Regions from separate parts of the Homo sapiens genome. Here regions 1 and 3 are each reported to be linked to region 2. Evidence: microRNA targets listed by miRTarBase, many of them from high-throughput screens and not tested one by one. Region 2 holds a microRNA gene; each other region holds the end of a gene's coding sequence.

Evidence for each region. The annotated mature microRNA hsa-miR-3928-3p reads GGAGGAACCUUGGAGCUUCGGC and lies in region 2 at 4,927-4,948, shown strand. An mRNA with a match to its seed (bases 2 to 7 or 8) in the 3' UTR can be bound and repressed. Matches are read on the target gene's strand: a 7mer-m8 pairs with bases 2 to 8, a 7mer-A1 pairs with bases 2 to 7 and ends in A, and an 8mer does both.
Region 1: miRTarBase lists TBC1D2B as a target of hsa-miR-3928-3p. Seed matches in the 3' UTR shown: 7mer-A1 at 1,157-1,163 and 7mer-m8 at 3,353-3,359.
Region 3: the mRNA of STC2 is a reported target of hsa-miR-3928-3p. Seed matches in the 3' UTR shown: 7mer-A1 at 4,585-4,591.

Annotation. Positions count from the first base shown.
Region 1 is chr15:77,992,077-77,999,180 of GRCh38, reverse strand. It overlaps TBC1D2B (TBC1 domain family member 2B), which reads left to right. Exons shown (of 13, transcript NM_144572.2): 13 at 826-4,196. The coding sequence ends at 1,021. LOC91450 (a long non-coding RNA gene) reads left to right here and starts at 4,956. Exons shown (of 1, transcript NR_026998.1): 1 at 4,956-5,948. It also overlaps the pseudogene ADAMTS7P3.
Region 2 is chr22:31,157,894-31,165,009 of GRCh38, reverse strand. MIR3928 (microRNA 3928) reads left to right here and starts at 4,891; the gene lies at 4,891-4,948. RNF185 (ring finger protein 185) reads right to left here and starts at 4,828. Exons shown (of 7, transcript NM_152267.4): 1 at 4,707-4,828.
Region 3 is chr5:173,311,491-173,318,594 of GRCh38, forward strand. It overlaps STC2 (stanniocalcin 2), which reads right to left. Exons shown (of 4, transcript NM_003714.3): 4 at 3,233-6,759. The coding sequence ends at 6,357. Among named protein-coding and RNA genes, the nearest start is that of MIR12118, 11 kb to the left of the region's middle. RefSeq lists an enhancer at 5,367-6,566.

The DNA of each region.
Region 1 (7,104 bases), not on the chromosome of region 2:
CATGTTGGTGGATACAAAGCATTTGGGGCCTGGCAGAATCCAGAGAGGGGAAGAAGGTGGCCCTAGGAACTGGCCTATTTTGTGATCCCCAGAGACCAGTGTGGCTGACCCATTAGTGCTACAAATCCATAGCCAGGCCTCAGGACAGCTTTTGGTCTTGTTTTTATTAAGCCACTGACCAGTGGTTAGGAGCAAGTGGATCATAACCTTAACATTTTTATTGAAAATTGGAGCCTTGACCTGGGGATGTGAAACCCACAAGCTGCACATTTCTCTGTAGACTGCATCTGGACACTTGTCACATTGCCAACTGGGTCTGACAGTCATCGCCAGGACTGCCTGGGCCTGTGTTCATTCCCAGTCAATGAGTCCTGGGACACAGACGTCCCGGACTCGTGCCCGGTGCCAGGCCTCATGCCCGCCCAAGGATGAAGACATACCTGCCATCACCATGCAAGTGCCGGGAGCTCTTCTCAGGGCTTATGTGTGGGAACACGAGTAATCCCACACCCTAGGAGGTGGCACTACTCTTACCCCAGTGTGCAGATGAAGATCAGAGGCCAGAAAAGGGGGGTGACTTCAGTCACACAGCAAGCATGTGGCAGAGCTGGAGTCCAGGTCGTCATTCTGAGCCTGCCCCTGGCTGGGCCATTGTGCTTTGTCACCTCTCTACAGAAGGTGGGCCTCATCCCCTACATCAGGCCCCAAGCCTGGCCAGCGCTCTTCCCACCCTGCCCCAGGCCACCTGCTATGCCTGTGAGGGCTGTGTGTGAGCACTCTCTGGAGCGCCGCTGATTCTCTTGTCTCTCCCCTGCGTCCTGCCAGGAAGCTGATCAGTATCTCCTTTGGGGACCTGAACCCTTTCCCCCTACGCCAGATCCGGAACCGACGCGCCTACCACTTGGAGAAAGTCCGGCTGGAGCTGACCGAGCTGGAGGCCATCCGTGAGGACTTCCTGCGTGAGCGGGACACCAGCCCTGACAAGGGTGAGCTGGTCAGTGACGAGGAGGAGGATACCTGAGTGGGCTCGGGATGCTGCTCTTCCTTCCTTCACAACCAAAGTGTGCCCAAAGGGTGAAAGTGCACTTAAAAGCCAGAATGTAACGTGTGTGTCCTCTGGGGATCTGCTGGGCAGATGTCCCAAGCCAGGCTGCCCTTCCTCATTTCCCACTGTGCGGGGGGCAGGGGTGGGAGGTCTAATCTGTTTACAACCATTTCCGTGCCATGCTTTTGGTTACACGTATCTCAGTCACGCTTTCTGCCTGGTTGGTGGATCCTCAGGCTTACCAGTGGCTATTTGCAAGAGCCTGTTTCCAGCCTCCGTCAGCCTGTCGGTGCTCTGACCCTCTGAAACCTTGCTTTGCTGGGCATCTCCCCATATTCTCTCTCCTGTACATAGTGGGCAGTGGTGTGTGGTTTTGAATGGCAGTGCTATAAAGGATGCCAGCTGTGCTTTAGGCACCTGTAGGCCAGAGGGTTGCTGCCTCAGGCATAAGGTTGGTATGAAAAGGGGCTGCCTTAGAAAAGCAGGCACATCCCTTGTTCAGAAATGGCCACTGTAGGAAAGCCTGTGAACCTCCCACCAGTGGCTTTAAGCTGCCAGCCATGCCCCATTTCTAGAATAGCCTTTGCTCTTCCACACGCAACCCTTCCATCAGTGTCTTCCAGCCTGCATGGGGAGGGCCTGGCTGCCCAGACACCCACCCTCACTTCTCATGGCCAGCCTGTGTTTGCAGATCACTGGGCTGCTCTGTCCCCAGCTTGCCCCGTGCCAGGCATGGCTCTGTGAGATTCTGTGGAATGCCCTTCTTGACTTGTGGAAATCATTCACCAAGTACGATGGGATGGGATTCCAAGTAAACAGTGGACCGTCATATTGCAAAGCAGGCCCACGCCTGGGCTGGCCTTGGTTGAGGGGATGGAGGAATGTTTTCGGGGGTGCTTTGCAGGGCAGTGGTGCAGCCGCAGCGTGAACGCTCTTGGACAGCTGAAAACCATGGCCTCCTTGGGGATGGCCAGTGCTCCTGGTGTCTCCACCTGCCTGGGTTGTGCAGGAGGCCGGCTGCCAGTGCCTGGGGCTGGGAAACTTTTTTGCTTGGGGCAGGCTTGGGTGAGCTCTCCCAGATGTGTGCCCACCCCACCACTGCCTGGAACATCCTTGTTCTCTGCCAGGATGCAGGGGCACTGTTGCCTCTGACACAGCAGTTTCTGGGAACTCAGAGGACTGCCTTTCTGAAGGCTGGGGAGAGGCTTTGAGCAAGGAGCTTGTTTTTGCTTAATCGCTCTAGACCATCCCTGATGCGTAGATGTGAGAGGATGTTTTCTGGCACAGTGTTATGAAAATACAAGATAAATGATCTCAGTGGAATGTTTCATATTACCCGAAAAAAACTGGAAATCATCCTTTGTTGTGAACACACTGAGACTAAGAATTGAAGCAATGCAGTTTTAAGAAGTATTTTTCCTATTTTTTGCTGTCAACTTTTTGGCAATGCCACGGCAAAGTTGGTGTTTCAGCACATGCTAGAGTGAGCTCCGGCTTCGTGTCTTTAACCAACTCCACTAATGTTTCACTGGGTAGACGGAGCTGGCCTCTATATTTAGCCAGAAGCCTTTGCCTCTTTTCAGGCATCAAAAATGGGTTTTGTCATTGTCTTTGTCTTTGAGAGCAGCAGTTTGAGGTCTGACTCCTTCAGTTGTCCTGTGAGCTGGGCGTTGCAGTCTGCTCGAATCAAGTGTTGGAACCCCCCCCACCCCTCAGCCCATCGTGAAACGACAGCTGTCAGCCTGGGGGGCGGCTGCTGAGGAGGTGCAGCAGGAATGGGGCTGGGCCCTGAGGTTTTACTTTCCGAGCCAATGGCCCCTGGAACATGCCAGCACACACTGCCATGTCCTGGGGCTAAGAGCTGCCTTTAGGGACAGGCTCGTGTTGTCCAGTTTGCCCTGAGAGATGCACCTGACCAGGGGCCCGTCGTGGCTGCAACCCACGGTGGTATGTTAGTGTTTCCAGGCAGTTGTCAGCAGCTGCCGGGCAGTGTGTGTGTGCGACAGCAGGAGAGTTCCTGGAGGAAAGGGACTGGGGACACTTTCTCAGAGGTTCTCCTGCCTGGAATCAAGTGATGCGTGTCCAGAAGGCAAGAGAGGGCGGCTCCGCCTGGTTAAAGTTTGGGAACGGGACGGAGCCAACTCCTCCTTCCAGGACTGTGGGCCCCACTCTTTTGCGCTAACACTTCCCCTCCCTCGGGTCACTGAGGAAAGAGCTGCTCTGTCCCCTCCAGTGCCCTGAAGGTCCCTGGCCTCCACTGGCTGCCATGGCAGGGGGCCCTTCTGACAGGGGCTGCCCCAAGCTGCTGTTCCTCCTCTGAACCTTCACCCCAACACCCAGCCCGTGGCCCCTGCAAGGGGGACCCTGCCAGCTGGGAAACCCAAAGGCCTGTCCAAACGTGCGCACCAGGACCGAGGGGAGCTCCCTCCCAACACCTGCTAGGAATTGCCAACTTTTAAATGGATGGGGTTTTTTATGGGTTGAACCTCTGTTAATACTTTTGTACACTCTCACTACAGTTTATATTTTTATAGGCTATTTTCTCAAGGTGTTTCTAGATTCCACATATCTATTTTATATAACAAGTTATTATGTTATGTGTGTGACTCCCTTGTGTGTATCTGTGCCAGCCTCAGCCTCCGAGTTGCTTTTCCCTCTGGCCCTGACTCTCACTGACTCACCGATGTGATGTGCAGGCCCACTTCTTACCCCAGATAGCCTCGGGCGCTGCCTGTAGTCATGCTGACAGCTGTACAGTAGCCGCCAAGACTGCTGACAGCTGGAGACGGTTCTGGTTTCAACTACGGTATATTGATATCGGAAGTATTCTAGACAGATCCTCGGTTGGGTTTTCTAGCTACATGTTTGTATTGCACAGATCCCCACCTGCCATCCTATAGTGTTGTCTTCCTGTGTGTTCCGGGGCTTCTGGGCAGCTGGGCCTGCCCGGGGAAGTCCTTGCAGGTGGGAGGCCATACAGAGACCCACTGTGTGCCACTGAACGTCCCACTGCTGCTGGGCAACTGGAGGACTGCAGGGGGCGCCAGGTGACTCTCTCCTTTTATATCACAGCAGCTCCTGTGCTGACCTTCAAGTTACGTTTTGGAACTGTAATACTAAAGGAAGAAATAAACTACTAATTTGTATAATATTCTGCATTGAAATTCAGTTATAGTCACTGGTGATGGGGCTCACCCCAAGGGCTTGGAGGGTGGGGCAGGGCTTATTGGTGTTGCGGGGGGCGAGGAGGGGCTCTCCAACCTTCCAGCCTGGCGTTTCTGGGTGTCTCTGCCCTTGGCTCACCCTGGGGCGGGTGCATCAGGATGCCTTTGCCAGCAGGGGCAGCCTTGGGAGGCCCCAAGAACCATGGCCAAGCTGCAGGTGTGGGCTGGGGGCACCGAGGTGGGAAAGCCGGAAGCTGGAGACTCCCTGTGTCCGGATAACCCCCCGCCCAGCCACAAAGAACAGGCATGCCTCCTTCCGCCAGCTGTGCCATGCCCTGCCTGAGTCACAGGCTTGTTTGTCTCCTGCCTGGGCTGACAGCTCAGGCCCAGCTGCCACTGGGCACACCCGCAGTCATCAGTGGAAAACACCCAAGAATGATAAAGACCAAAGGGGTTCCCATAGGGGTGTTTCGGGGTGGCTCCAGCAAGGATTCCCAGACAGGGCAGGCCAAGGCCTGGCAGGCTTTTCTCTTCTGCGGACATGGATTCAGCGAGGCTGGGGGTTCCTGGAGTCACGCAGCAGAGCGGCGGCGGCAGAGCTGGGGCAGAGCTGGGACAGGGACTGGCTCCGTGTGTGGGTCAGGAGCAAGTCGACAGGCCCTGCTCCCCACCCCTTGGAAGGGAGTGCCACCAGGGGCCGTTCTGACTAAGGCCTGGGAAGCCATGACTCAGAGCTTGGGTCCCTAGAGTCTCTTTGGGCCAGCCGGGCTGCTGCAGACAGACAGGAAGCACGCCTGACGCTCCTCTACCCTCGGGCAGCACAGCGGGGCTGGGACTCACTCTAGCTTGCCCAGCAACTTGCTTTCCTGTGTGAACTCTGGCAGGCTGCCCTCTCTGTGCAAAGCTGCCACTGGGGCCTGCTCAGGGTGGCCTGGAACTTGGAGGTGGGCAGTCAGGGCCTAGGATGGGCCTGTGTCACCAGGGCATGTGCCCTTGGGCCAGTTACTTCCTCTCAGAGCCTTGGGCTCCTCCTCTGAGGATGGGGCTTGTTGGTGTGAAATGAGGTGAGCATGTTGAGTTGGGGAGCAGCAGGACACGCACCTGCAGGCAGCCGCCCTGGCCACGCTCCCTCCCTACCTTCCGAGTCCTGGGACAGACACAGTAGAGCACAGCGGGCCAGCCTGCTCTCTTCTCTGTCTACTTTTTGCAGAAGAGTCAACAGATACAACAGGCCCAGGGAGGTGCCCCTGGGGGCCCCAGTCCCCATCACTCCAAGGGGCAGTCCTGCAAGTGACAAGGTGGGCCCAATCCCTGTGGAACAGGTCTCTGAGGACCACAGAGTGGGGCCCCAGGGAAAGCTGGGAGCCGAGCTAGAGGCAGGCAGCAAGTAAGGGCCAAGCTGTGCCCCTGCCCGGAAGACCTTCCTGCCCCCAGAACCCGACCCTCCGCAGATAGCCCTCCCTGGGCAGCAGCCCCCCAGCTTCCAAGGCCCGTGCCTCACCAGACGCCATGCTCTCACGGACTTGTTTGCTGCTCTGTACCCTGCAGATCTGCCCCAGAGGAGCAGGTGAAAAGCCGCGCCTGCCGAGGTGCTGTGGCGGTGGAGTTTTGGGCAGAGGAGTGGGGGGAAGAGTTTCTCACTTTTAAGATTCTCCAAATCCAAGATGAAGTCATGCTGTGCTTTGGAATGGTAGATGCTCATTTATGTAAAATCATAATAAATGTTACACAAACTGTTAGAATAAAAAAATACTTTTTTTGAGGGGGGAGGAGGTCCCCAGCCTGCCGCTGGATAGTGAGAGGGGGTTAGCACCATTAGGGCGTAGGGCGTAGGGCGTAGGGGGCAGGAGCTCCGCCACAGCCCATGGTGGGCACTGAGGTCTGTTGGTCGGTCTGTGCATCCTGGCACGGTCAGTGGCAGGCAACCCGCTGATGGCCTCGGGAGCGGGCGCCGTGGCTGGGCGGAGAGCACGAGCGGCAGCAGTGGGTGCGGACAGTGGGCAGCTGGCAGCAGCCCACTAGGTGCAGCGTCTCGCAGAACCTGAAGGACAGGTGGTCCCGCTTATAGCCTGGAGTGGGGGGAGTGGGGGGAGTGGGGGGAGTGGGGGGGAGTGGGGGGGGAGTGGGGGGGAGTGGAGTGGGGGGGGAGTGGGGGGGAGTGGGGGGAGTGGGGGGGCGGGGGATTGGGGGGGGTGGGGGGGCGGGGGGGGCATCAGAACCTGGCTCCCCACCCCAACCACCTTAAGGAGGCTCCAGCAGCTCCCCACCAAGCAGAGTGCCCCGGTTTCAAGGTCACACGTCTCCAGCTGTTGCTATTTCTGTCCCACCTGCTCATGGCCAACCCCAGGATTCAAGAACGGGCGCTGCTGGGCTGAAGTTTCTGGAGGAAAGGTCTTGAGACCCCACCCTGACCCCCTCACATGCCCATAAAAGAGCCTGCCCAGGGTGACACCCTGCCACCCCATCTCCATACTTGCTCACCCCTGGTATTCCCCGACAGATCCTGGCACAGAACTGAGGTCCCAGGGGCCTCCTGCCAGCCTGCAGCAACCTCTGCCGTCCACTCCCGCCACCTCCCCCTGCTCCAGTGCACCTATCCTGCCAGGCCTCTGTGACCACCTCCAGCCACGGGGGCTGTACACAGCCTCGGGTTCTGAGTCACAGGGTCCCATCTCCCAGGCCAGCCTCCCACTTCTCAGGTGGGCCACAAAGCCTAGAGTGAGTGGGCCTTACAGGCCATCAGTGGAAACCAGGGACTGAGCCCAGGCCCAGTGGGGAGGGAGGCCAGCTGCAGGCTGTGCTTGTCAGGGCTGAGGCTTGGCTGGGCCCTCCTGCCCCATGGTTATCAGAGCTATTTTGGGATGTGGCTTGTTTCCAGCCTCCTAGCCTTGCTCC
Region 2 (7,116 bases):
GAACCTGGGAGGCAGATGTTGCGGTGAGCCAAGATTGCGCCACTGCACTCCAGCCTGGGCAATAAGAGTGAAATTCCATCTCAAAAACAAACAATTAAAAAAAAAATAAATTTTAGTGCAAATGCAGGCCGGGTGTGGTGGCACACCTGTAATCCCAGAACTTTGGGAGGCCGAGGCAGGTGGATCACCTGAGGTTGGGACTTCAAGACCAGCCTGCCCAACATGGTGAAACCCCACTCTACTAAAAATACAAAAAACAGCTGGGCATGGTGGCACACGCCTGTAATTGCAGCTATTCAGGAGGCTGAGGCAGGAGAATCGCTTGAACCCGGGAGGGGGGTTGCAGTTAGCTGAGATCATGCCACTGTATTCCAGCCTGGGTGACAGGGTGAGACTCCGTCTCAAAAAAAAAAAAAAAAAAAAAAAGACAATGAGGAACTGTCCCAGATATCTGATGAGACCAGGGAGACTTGACAACTAAATGTGATGTAGGATCCAGGATTGGGTCCTGGAACAGAAAAAGGACACAGTGGGACAAATAGCAAAATCTGAATAAAGTCTCTAGATTAGCTAGTAATATTGTATTAATGTTAAATTTCTTGTTTGGATAATTCTGATATAATTATGTACAGTTTTGACATTAGGTGAAGTTAGATGACAGATATACAGAAAGTTTGTGAATTATTTTTGCAAGTTTAGTATAAGAGTAAAATTATTTCAAAATAAAAAGGCCAGGCGCAGTGGCTCACGGCTGTAATCCCAGCACTTTGGGATGCCAAGGCGGGTGGATCACCTGAGGTCAGGAGTTCAGGACCAGCCTGGCCAACACGGTGAAACCCACCTCTACTAAAAATACAAAAATTGGCCAGGTGTGGTGGCACATGCCTGTAATCCCAGCTACTTGGGAGGCTGGGGCAGGAGAATCGCTTGAACCTGGGAGGCACAGGTTGCAGTGAGCTGAGACTGTCCCACCGCATTCCAGCCTGGGCAACAAGAGTGAAACTCCATCTAAAAAATAATAATAATAATAATAAGGGGCCAGGCACGGTGGCTCAAGCCTGTAATCCCAGCACTTTGGGAAGCTGAGGTGGGTGGATCACTTGAGGTCAGGAGATTGAGACCATCCTGGCCAACATGGTGAAACCCCGTCTCCACTAAAAATACAAAAATTAGCCAGGCAAGGTGGCGTGCACCTGTAGTCCCAGCTACTCAGAAGGCTGAGGCAGGAGAATTGCTTGAGCCCGGGAGGTGGAGGTTACAGTGAGCCGAGATTGCGCCACTGCACTCCAGCCTGGAGGACAGAGTGAGACTCCGTTTCAAATAAATAAATAAATAAATAAATAAATAAATAAAATAAAATAAAAAGTTAAAAAACAATACATGGCTGGGAGTGGTGGCTCATACCTGTAATCCTAGCACTTTGAGAGGCTGAGGCAGGAGAATCATTTGAGCTCGGAGATTTGAGACCAGCCTGGGCAACATAGTGAGACCTCATCTCTACAAGAAACCTAAAAGTTAGCTGGGTGTGGTGGTGTGTGCCCGTAGTCCCAACTACTCGGGTGGCTGAGGTGGGAAGATGGCTTCAGCCCAGGAGGTCAAGGCTGTAGTAGGCTATGTTCGTGCCACTGCACTCCAGCCTGGGCAACAGAGCGAGTCACTGTCTCAAAAAAAAAAAATGTACACGATGCAGGTCAGGAATTGGCAATTTTTTTTCCATAAAGGGCCATAGAGTAAATACTTCAGACTCTGTGGACCATATGGTTTTTATGGGAAGTAATCAACTCCACTGAGTAGCATTAAAGCACCCAAAGACAATATGTAAATATATATGAATATAAATAAATGGGTGTGACTGAAATGAACACTGAAATTTTATCTTCCTGTAATTGTCACCTATGTAATATTATTCTTCTTTTATTTCCCATCATTTAAAAATGTAAAAAGCAGGCCAGACGTGGTGGCTCACGCCTGTAATCCCAGCACCTTGGGAGGCTGAGGCGGGCAGATCACGAGGTCAGGAGATCAAGACCATCCTGGCTAACACAGTGAAACCCTACCTCTACTAAAAATACAAAAAATTAGCCAGTCATCGGGGTGGGCGCCTGTAGTCCCAGCTATTCGGGAGGCTGAGGCAGGAGAATGGCATGAACCCAGGAGGCGGAGCTTGCAGTGAGCTGAGATGGAGCCACTGCATTCCAGCCTGGGCAACAGAGCGAGACTCCGTCTTAAAAAAAAAAAAAAAAGAAAGAAAAATGTAAAAAGCACCCTTAGCTCACAGACCATATAAACAAGCAGTAGGTCCAGGTTTGGTTCACAGCCTATATATAGTATGCAGATCCCCACTCTAGGTCAGAATTTGCTAACGTGTGCTTCAATTAAAAAAAAAAAAAAGATTTGACATCAAGTAGATTAAACAAATGGAACAAGTTATTATCTTGGCTTATAAGGCACATTTCCTTATTGCAGGACCTCTCAGTGGTTTTAATGTGGTATTACACATTGAGAAGCTCCAAGAAAGAATAATGGTATGTGGCTTTCTCAAACTTATTATTAGCATCAAATCCTTTTTTCAGAGCCACTTCTTCAGACCAGTGGCCTGAAGAACATACTTATGAGAATGTCAATTCAGACACTTCTTTAAAAGGAAACTTTTAGATCGAGAAGTTCTAAAAACTCCAACAAATTAAGATCATTTTACCCAGTACCTGGATAACATCTGAATAAGCATTTCACAACTTTTTTATTTTTTAATCTTGGGAAACACAAGTCGATAACTGGCAGGAAGTTTTGGCTCAACCCTAACTTTTGTGGCGGCGGGGGAGCAAGTCAGCAGAACTGGGTCATAATATGGAGCCTCTGCTCCCTAAGACAACATAAACATTCCTAAGCATTCTAGCAGGTGTTGAAAAAGTGATTTAGGCAGAGCTTTGTAATGCACAAAATAAGGACATAATAATGTTTGATTAGAAAACCAAAGGTATGCTAGAGGCCAGGCACAGTGGCTTACACCTGAAATCCCAGCACTTTGGGAGGCTGAGGCAGGCGGATCACTTGAGGTCAGGAGTTCGAGACCAGCCTGGCCAACATGGTGAAACCCCATCTCTACTAAATACTCAAAAAAAAAAAAAAAAAAGCTGGAACTTGTCATGTGTGTGAACTGGCAAGTCAAGTCTATAAGAGGACTGTTTTTATATGATGCATGGAAAGCTAGCCAACAGACTGCAAAAATTCTCTCACATCTATACACATATTGCTGAAGAGAGGATTCAAGCAGGGATTATGTTCCAGGGAAGAGAAGGCTGGTCTGAACAACCTCAAGGGGTGCTTTCAACTGAGAGTCCTCAATTTTGTGATTCAGAGTTCACTGGCTTCTCCTGGTCAAACATAAAATCTTCAGAGGCATTTCCAACTTGTTCTTAGAAAAAAGCTACTAACCCATGGGGTGGGACCCAGTTTACTTATTCATTCAATAAACATTTAAGGTGCCTCTATCAGATATTGGGTCATTCCAAAGTCCTTGAAAAGAAGGATGGTGCACAGGACAACCAGGAAGAGATTATGTAAGGTCAGATGCATTGGCCTTATTTACAGGAGATGTAGGCTAAAGTGATGGAAGTGTCAAAAGAGAAGAAAAAAGTCACATTTGCCTTGAGAGCAGAGTCAGCACCAGAAAGATGCAGAACAACTCCTTGGAATCACAGACTTTCAAGTTGGAAAGGACCTTCATCTAATACCTATATACCTCCCTCGAAAGGAGGCACGGAGGCAATCCATTCACTCCATCGGTGGTCACCTCTGACGATTCTTCCATTTAAGTTCTTCTATTAAGCAAAAATCTTGCCTTCCTGTAGAATTCACCTGTTAGTCCTAGTTCTGCCTCTTTTAGCCTAAAGATGAAGTGGAAGCCCTCTTTGCCGTAACAGTATTTTCAATTTTTAAAAAGTTAATTCCCTTCCAGTGCTCTCTTTACTGAGCTAACCATTCCAGTTCTTTCAAAGTTCCTGAACTGGCACCAGCTGCCTCAAAGCGAAGAATGGATATCTAGTGCTCACAGCAGGAAAGCACTTAAAATCAATGAGCTTCAAACATTAGTATATACAGGACCCCCCTACGCATAAGTTCAGATTCTAAACCAGAAGTCTGAATTGAGTCCCGCGCTGTAAAGCCGGCATCTCAGAGAATTACAAAGCAGATGGTGTAAGAACCATATTTTGAAAAACACTGCCCCGTTTTAGAGACGAGAAAACTGAGGCCCAGCACAGGGAAGAGATTTGGCCCAGAACGCACAATTGTCTGTCGGTGGCGAAGTCTCGAATCCAGGTCTCTTACTTTCAGCCCAACTCTGTTCACCGCGCTCCCCGGCCTCTGCTTCTCCACTCAGGGCAAACTCGTGAAATGCACTCCCAGATGATAGAGGCGGTCTCGCACGGGGGATAGAATGGGAATCAGTGCCCATGCCTCGAAAGGAGAGCTTGTGGGAGCCCTTCTCTTTCGCAAGGCCTCAGTTTCCCCAATCTGTATTCATGGGACGCAGAACCACAACGCCAGCTCGTCCTCTTTTCGGGGACAGACACGACCGGTCTTGCTGTCTCTGGGCCCCTGGGCTCAGATGTTCAAGCCCGTGTGTCCTGGGAAGGCGGACCCGGGTCTCCCGCCCCCGTCCCTAAACTTTGGCGCCCCCGCCCCAACCCCAGCCCCTCACATACCTGCCTCCGCACAGTTAACGCCAGCCCAGTCAATCAGTTTTTCGGGTACACGGCCAATACTAACGCCGCGTCAATCTGTTGGGTAAGACCTCCGACCCCTCCTACGCGGACTCCAGTCACATGACGCGGAGCCGCCCCTCTCGGAGGGACTTCCGGCCCCAACCGGAAGAGGTTAATTTCCATGGCTGAAGCTCTAAGGTTCCGCCTGCGGGCAGGAAGCGGAGGAACCTTGGAGCTTCGGCAGCTTTTCAAAGAGCTTTGGGTTCGGGGCTCCTAAAAGAAAAAAACTGATTCCGGCCGGGCGCGGTGGCTCCCACCTGTAATTCCAGCAGTTTGGGAGGCCGCGGCGGATGGATCACTTGAGGTCAGGAGTTCGAGACCAGCCTGGCCAAAATGGTGAAACCCCTCTGTACTCAAAATACAAAAAGTAGCCGGTCGTGGTGGCGCACACCTGTAATCCCAGCTACTCGGGAGGCTGAGGCAGGATAATCGCTTGAACCCGGGAGGCGGAGGTTGCAGTGAGCTGAGATCGCACCACTGCACTCTAGCCTGGGCGTCAGAGTGAGACTCCGTCAAAAAAAAAAAAAAAAAAGAGAGAGAGAAAGAACTAACTCATTCCGGAAAGTACCAGATAAACTTGGAACATCTTGTTACACCAGAATATAAGGATGATGGTAATAAGAATCATGGGAATGTGTCAAAGAACACAGGAGCTGTCTTTAAGGAGATCTTACTGGCCAAGTCAGGGCAATTTCAGAATCAAAATATGGAGTGATAGTAATAGAGTATAACTAATTGAATAAAATAGTAATCCATGAGTCTTTACAAACATAAAGAAGTGAGCATATTAATGGGTGAAGGGAAAGTCTTCCTTTTAGTAGAATGCTAGCTAATAAACATGGTGGAATTAGGAAATCAATAATGTGTGGTAAAACTAGAGAAACGGGATGTTTACAACAGCAAAAGTGTCTCCCATAAATTAGCTATTGATTACAAAGGGAAAATGGTGATGTTACAGAGGTTTAACCTAGCAGAACAAACAGATCAAAGTGATCAAAGTTAACACCACTAGTTAATGGGTCAGATCAAGGGCCTCCTAATAAAATGCACTGAGAACACATCTGTGGTATTTCTGTCAAAAGTGCACCGTACACATCTCATGAGGAAGTGCTAGAGAACCCCAAATGAAGGACACTGTCTACAAAATAACTCATTGTCATGAAAAACAGAGAAAAGCTGAGGAACTGTTCCAGTTTAAAGGAGACTAAAGAAGCATGACAACAAAATGTGGTGTGTGATTCTAAATAGGACCCTGGACTGGGGTAGTGGTGGTGGTGGAATAGTTGTAATGGACAATATTGGGACAAGTAATGAAATTTGAATATGGATTGTGGATTAGCTGTTAATACATATTGTATCAAATCACATACTGATAGGTGATGGAGCTTGTGATTTGCACTCAAGCAGTCATTGGAGTTCTTGACAGCCATCTTCATTCATTCAACAAGCATTTATTAAGTACCTACAGTTATCCCAGGAACGGTTAGGGATCGGACCTGAGTAGGAGGTGAACATAGTAGATAAAGGCCGGCGCGGTGGCTCACGCCTATAATACCAGCACTTTGGGAGGTCGAGGCAGGCAGATCACCTGAGGTTAGGAGTTCGAGACCAGCCTGGCCAACATGGTGAAACTCATCTCTACTAAAAATACAAAAATTAGCCAGGCGTGGTGGCGGGCACCTGTAATCCCGGCTACTTGGGAGGCTGAGGCTGGAGAATTGCCTGAACCCAGGAGACAGAGGTTATAGTGAGCCAAGATCGTGCCATTGCACTCCAGCCTGGGCGACAAGAGTGAAACTCCATCTCAGAAAAAAAAATAAAAAATAGTAGATGAAATAAGCTCATAGATGAAAGTCCTAGTCTGCCAGCCACCTTTGCAAGTTCCTGTGATCAAGAAGTAATACAAGGGATGTTTCCAGTCACACAAACCTGGATTTGAAACCAAGCGCTAAGAGAAAAACAGCCCCTGACATCCAGGAGATGGTCTGGCACTCACAAATAGACCTTGGTGTGTTCTCTTATTGAACATAAAAACTTCACAGAACATCAACATCAAACAAAGCCACTATGTGACCATGATGGATCAAGACAATAACAAAACCACTTGAATCATGTCTAAACCCAGACAAAACATGAGCATTGTTCGAACTACAAAAATGGCCAAACATTTCCCTATTCTGGCTTGTATAGAGATTATAGATTTAGCCTCGGTCTACTCTTCCCTCCTTCTAAATAATGTTTATCAAGGTACTCACTCATAGGCAGCATCCAATCCAGAAAACCCCATTTTCTTAAGCCCTCGTCCAAATCACCTAATGCAAGCCCAAATCCTATGTGTCCTTTGTAACAC
Region 3 (7,104 bases), not on the chromosome of region 2:
AGGCAGCTCATCCCATCCGTGATCTTGGCTTTAGGCCACTGTCTTCTGAAATGGCCGAGAGAAATAACCACCACCCTTTACGTGGCATGTCATCGTCTTCAAAGCATTTCCTAGGCTTTGTGACTTTTTATATAGCTTAAGTCATTTTATCTTCAACTGCCCTCCATCCCCCTGAGAAAAGCAGGATAGCTGTTGGTTTCCTTATTTTGTAGCTAAGGAAACAGGCTTAGAAAATGGAACCGATTCGCCAAGGTCTCAGGGCCAGTCCTGATTTTTTCAGTCATTAGTTATATTTCCTTCTTATCCCCAAAGAGATTTACCTGGTGCAAGATGAGTAGGTGGCTGGATTGGTACCCCTGTCTATGTCTCCTGACTTCAAAATTACAGGCTTCCCAGCGATTTTTAATTTTGACACCCTCTCACTGATTCTATGACATGTTGATCCCTTGTACAAGGATGCAAGGATATATTTGCTTTAGAAGTTAAAGTAAATTGAAACTCATCTGATTTGACATTTTGGCACCATTTTAGACAAGAGGTTTCTTTCATTCATTCGTTCATTCATTCATTCACTCACACCGAGCAATGGCAGAGCTGCTGGGGATACAGGCAACTGTGTACAAAAAATGACATAGCCTCTGTCCTCATGGAGTTTAGAACCTGTGGTTCTTATAGTACCAAGGGTGAAAACAGCTTAGATTTGAAGAGTATGGTGTAAGATCCTCCAGCCTGTCTTGAGGGAAGCCAGTCACTATGGAAGAAGTGAGACTACCCCCGGACGGCCATGCTCTGACAGGCCTCGGGGGATGAGGCACCACAATGGGGACTGTGGGAGAGGTGGGACGGGAGAAGAGAGGAGGCCTGGAGCACCGAGGCACCATCTTGGGAAGGTCATCTTGGAAGTGGATCCTCCAGCCCCGGTTGCCCCAGCCACCACCATGTGAAGAGTCTAACCACCCTTTCCAAATTTCTGACCTGTAAAATTATGAGCAAAATAAAATAGTTGTTTTATACCTACTAAGCTTCAGGAGTAGTTTTGTTAAACAGCAATAAACATCTGGGACAGAATTCTAGGGACTGATCATTCTTTCTGAACAAAGCCCTCTTTGGAGCCCTTGGCCCTTTGCAGAACATTATTCATATCTCAGGGGACAAGCAGGTGGTCCCTGTCCTCTTTAGCATGCCACTGCTTTTTTACATGTGCATTCCCCCTTAGTTTTAAGAACCATAAAAATTCCTGGAATTTATCGAATGGGAAACGGAACCAGCTGATTCTCCTCATTACCTTGTGAACAATACCCTGCCTCTGAGAATTCCATGTAGGAGCTTTCCTTGTTTCTCCCAAGTTTTAGCTCAGGCGTGATGTTCAATGGTGGCAAGGTGGTTACAGATTCTAAGGTGCCATGAGATCTGGGTTCATCCTGGTGTGGAGTCCATTTCATGCATAAGCCTAGGTTGGCTTTGTGACTTTTTTTTTTCTGTACTCTTTGGGAAGTGACTTTTTTTTGTTGTTCTTTTTGGGGAGTGATAAAAACTGAACTGCTTATGCAAGCAGCAACACGGGACTCCTAGCCCAAGGCTTCTATTGCTCTTTTCTTCTCTTCTCCACCCACAAAAAATAATTCACATAAAAACTGTTCTCTGGCCAGGGGTTGTCGCCTCCTCAGCAGGGGGCTTTCTTTTTTGTTGACTTTAGAACCAATTTGGTTTTCTGTGTCCAGATTTTGGGGTGCATAGATCCAGCTTCCTTTGGAAACTCTGCTTAAATCCCAGCATATTTGGAAGCTCTCTGACTTCTTCCTCCCACAGCCTAATAATTCCAGAACAGTTGGATTGGAACAACCTTGGGGCTTAGAGGGAGGCAGCTGAATTTCTCGACTCATTTGGGTGCATTTAACCCATGTGTTCACACTTGGAGTGCAAGAAGACAAGGTGGAGGGGTGCATTTGCATGCTGACTCTAGAGCTCACTAGCCTTGTGACTGGCTCCAGGCATATTAAATGTCATGAAGCCTCAGTTTCTTTATCTTTAAAATGGGTTTCAGAAATAATATCCCTAAAGCACCAGGCAAGGCACGGAGCACATCATGGGTCCCCAGGAATCTGCAGCTGTCCTGATGAGGGTGATGATGTTGGTGAAGGGTTTGGAGGAGGCTGGCTTCTCAGAAAGGTGATGGGGTGAGTTTAGTGAGGAAAGCTCCAGCTGCATGTTTCAAGAAAACCAGATGCTCCCCAAATGCTTTCCCAGTGGTGCATGAGAAGAATCTTATAAAAAATTATCCACATGCAAAGAAAAATGAGGAGGCTCCACGATTCTCCTGCTTTCCTTATCGGAACCAAAATTTGAGTCTTTGCAGAGAGTAAAGGTGAGAGCATTAACTTTCCTTTCCATTTTGAAGCAGAACTCCTTGGAGGCCTGGAACTATAAATGTAAGAGTATAATTATTCTTTCCCCAAGCCTCGTGTAAAATAGGCATAACACTGATTGGTTTAACTTAAAAATAAATTTAAAGTGGAGATTCTAGGCCTGAAGTAGGGGAAGGTGTGTGGGCTTAGGAGTCCTGATCTGAGTTTGAGTTCAGACCCCACCCCACTCACTAGCCACACAGTTTGGGACAAGTCTGTACCTCAGTTTCTTCACCTGTAGAATGAGGATAATACCTATTATTTGTGGGATGTAATGAGGATGAAATAATGCATGCAAAATGCCTACTGTGGTGCCTGGAACATAGTAGGTACACCAACAGTGGCACAGATCACGTAAACCAGGGGCTCCAGCTCTGTTCTGCTGTCGTGAGCAAGAGCTGGGGAGGAGGCAGTGGGCTTCCCTCTATATGCCAGGCCACTCAGCTGTTAAGCTGGTGGTGTCTGCTGCAGGCTCAGTCTGAGAGAAGGGGTGGCCAAGCCACAGGGGAGACTCACAGGGGAGACTCAAAGGTGAGACCAGAGTGAGCCTTAAGGACCTGCCTAATGGGGTGTGGGGGTGGCACTTCCAGGCCAACTGCATGAAATTTATTCTCCTCCTTGTCTGGGTGACTCAGGCAGGGGCTTGGACAGGGTCCCTCTGACGGAGAAGCCTAGGGTAGTCCTCTTCATCTAACTTCCTTCCCTGTAGGCTGAACATCCACAGAAGCATAGGATTCTCTTGACGTAAAAGCCCACTTGCTCACAGCTGTCCCCCTGTGCACCGGACATCAATGACCCTCTCAGACAATGACGCTACTCAAGTGGAAGCCATTTATTTAAAACTTTTATTAACGCTTGAAGAAAAATAATGCAATGTGACAATGTACAGGTCCTGTTGCCTAAATCCGTAGTAGAAACAGATATTATCACTTAGCAAGCTCACGTGGTGCCAATTCTGAGATCAGACGGGGTTGTTCCTCCTTAGGAAGTGGCCACTGGAAGCATTGTTTTTCCATGCTATTTCCGTGAAGCCTTTTGCTTGGTTCGAGTTTAAATTTCTCCCTTTGTGTGAGTATGACTATAGTTCTGGCCTGGTGTTTTCTATTTATTTAGTTTTAGATGTCAGCATTTTACTATACTTGGTCCTCTCACTTCAGAATAACAGGGCTATTTATTGATACAAAGGAGAGGTGTTCAGATCATCTTGTTAAGATGCAGAGCTCAAAATAAACACTAAATCTTTATTTGGAGATCCACATCCTTCCTCAAAGGAAGGCTCATGAGTAAATTTGTATGCAGTATAAAGCCCAAGTAGAGGGTGTATTTTTAATGACTACTTTGCTTACATTTTAGATTGTGCAAATGTCTCAATCAATGCTTGCAGGAATGTGGACCTTCCTCAGTTTTAAGCAGAAGACCCTGAGCAATAAATACTGTTGCATGCTTCCAATAACGTGAGGGATGGGATAGAAATGCTATCTACCCGACTTCTGAGGAGAAAACAAAGCAGTGGCATGAAAAATATACAACAGAGATCAGTAAATGGGTTCAAATGAACACAGTAAACCATTTTATGCCTTAGGGGGAAAACACAGAGATAATAAATACAAATGACAAATATTTACAATAGAAGCAACGAATGGGATCAGTAGGCGAACACATAAAACATTTACACGGAGGAAAATGGAAATGTGATGCCTTTCACACATCCAGTCCAGGAGCTGGCGGACAAATGAACAGCTGACTCAGCAACGCAGGAGAATGTTATTGCTTTAGCTTTTGAGTGATGTCAGTAAAACAGTCAACGTGCCTGCCGCGGTGGCTCACTGCAGGAGACAGCCACGGTTTACACTCGTTCCCATGGCAGAGCCTGACACACAGGTCCTCCTCCCCCCAAGGGCAGAGCTGGATTAAGTGCACCAGCTCTTCTGTTCTCTGCAGCCCCAGATCTTGCTGGGTGCCCAGGGAGCCCGGTGGCGGGGGCTGGAGGTGGGGTTTCCTCCCTTCCCCCAACCAATGATTCCCCTCCCCACCCAACCGCCGGCATGGATCATGAAAGACTGGGATTGGATTTGGGGCATAGAAATACTAGCTGTGTTTTGGTTGAAGGCATTCCCCAGGAACAAGTCATTTTAGAGCAGATACGCTTGGTTTCTTGGTGTCTGGCCTCAGGTTGCCTTGAGGAAGAGCTGATGAGTTGACGGATAAGGATGCATATGCTTTTTGACCCACTCACTAGAACAGAGATCAGTAAACTGTGTCCTGTGAGTGAAATTCAGCTGGGAGCCTGTTAAATAAATCTTCCTGGAAGGGAGCCAAGCCCTCTCGTTTGTGTGTTGTCTATGGCTGCTTTTGTGCTAGGACGGCAGAGTTGAGTAGTTTCGACAGAGACCTCACGGCTCGCCAAACTGAAAGTACTGGATTCAGTATCTGGCCCTTTGCAGACAATGTTTGCTGACCCCCTACTCCAGAAGAGCCCAGCCCAGAATACCCGGCCACTCCCTACAATACCAGCTCCTGCTTGAGAAAGGATAGGCTTTAATTTGATGGCCAATTAGGAAGAAAAGGCCTATTTAGGTGATGTTTTAAATAACCCAAGAAACCCACTGCTGAGACTTTTAATGAAAATCCTCACTCTCCTTTCCTCGTATTTTTAGTTCTGTCTCTTCTCTCTGCCTTTATTTGTCCCCTTGGACTCCTCTCCTTATTGCTAAATTTCCAATTAGGATCTGGAAAATCCTGTCCCTTAGAGATTTTCAGCAGTCTCCTTGATTTTATGTAAAAGGTCAGCATTTCCTGATGGGAATTACTAAGTAGTCTTCATTCTCTTCTTTCCTTTCCCATCCCCTCACATGGAGAAGCCAGGTTTCCAGCTGGGTCTCCTGGAATCGCCAGGACGCAGCTTTACCAATCTTGGCTGAGGGTCAAGGTGAGATAACGAAATCCTAAGGGAAATTTGTCAAATGTACTCCCCAGGTGTGTATTTTCCTCTGGGTATAAGGTTTCCCCCAAGTGGGCAGGAGTCCATGTCAGGCAGTCAGATGTATGGCTATGTCGCTGTTTGATAGCTTTTAAAATAGAACTTAAAAAAAAGAAAAATCAGCCTCAAAGGATGGGCTGGTTTTTTTTTTTTAAACCCCCTTTGAGCTGGTTTTAATGACCCAGTTGCTTTGTTTGAAAGCCATTTATTTAGATGACAGATATGTAGATATAACTGGATAAATAAAAAAAGTGAAATCGAGATTTGAAGCAGTGGTTAAAATATAAACTCATAGGGGCCACTCCCTTGGACAGTGTCCCCCCCAGCCCAGACAGTACAATGGCTCAGAAATTACACATAGAAATGACACTCCTCCCTCCACCCTCGCCAAGAGCTCTGAACCGCAAGGCCCCACACAAGAAACTGAATTTCAGTTTGGCACCAAGCACCCCCTCGGCCCCTGCCTCCTCTCCACCCTTCTCCTGCATTCTAAGCGATATTTATTTTTACATTCACTCCTGTCCTGGAATCCAGCCGCCCTGACTTCCGCGGAGACAGCACCAGAGGCTGCTGCACCAGAAGCTTCGGGGCGAGGCCCAGCACCCACTGTGTGGCCCAGCTCTGGGGGCCCTGCCTTGCCCTGCCCCTCCCTGGTTCACCTCCCCCACAACAGAGCGGCCGACACCCACTGACTCCACAGATGGAAAGAAGACAAAGGTACGAGGATAACGCGGGCGCGCTCCCTTGAGTACGTGTAAGTGCAGAATTCACCAGGCACCCCTGAGACCCCACGGCCCCAGGGGTCTCCATCTCACCTGTCCGTTCCGCGAACACACACCTCGATGAAGTCCACAGTCCCCACAGAATCCTGCGTGTGACATCCCCCCTCTCTAATGGTAAATGTTTTGGAATGTCCATAGATAAGAAAATGGACGGCGTGGAGGAAAGATTTCGTGGCCAGGCCTTTCATTTCACCTCCGGATATCAGAATACTCAGACTGTTCGTCTTCCCACTCGCTGCTTCCGGAAGGTCCCTGAGCCCCAAGGCCCCCGACTCTGCCTCGGGCATGGGCGTTTGGGTGGCTCTTGCTACCTCGCTCACCCTTGGCACCTCGGCCAGTCTCCCTACTGCTGGGCTCTGGGAGGTGATGTCCTGCTTCCCCGTGGTGGGCCCTGGAGAGCTTGGTTCTGTCCACCTGGGGCTGGCGCTCGGGGGGCGCCGTGGGAGGCTTCTGGATGGCCGAGGTGCAGAAGCTCAAGATGGAGCACAGGCTTCCCCAGTTCTGCTCACACTGAACCTGCACGCTGTGGGTGATGGCCTCCTTCACCTCCTCCCCACAGGTCAGCAGCAAGTTCACGAGGTCCACGTAGGGTCTAAAGATTGAAAGCAAAGAGAGAGAGAGAGAGAGAGAGAGAGAGAGAGAGGCTGGGAATGGAGCAAGTCCCGAATGGACCACAGAGGGCAGGGGCAATGCTGGGAAGGAGGCATGGCCAGTGCTTGTCTTGGGTTCGGTGGAAGATCTCTCTCAAATGACTTCAAGCCTTTTCTCATAGTCTATGGAGTACTGGCCTCAACCAACACTTATTGGGTGGCCACTGTGTCCCAGGCTCACAGGTGCATAGGGTAAGAGCTTAGGACCCTAAAAGGAAGACCCTCTGGGGATGGTGAGAAATCCAGGTGGCTGCGTGAATAATGGCAGGAGAGCTCTGGGTGCCTTT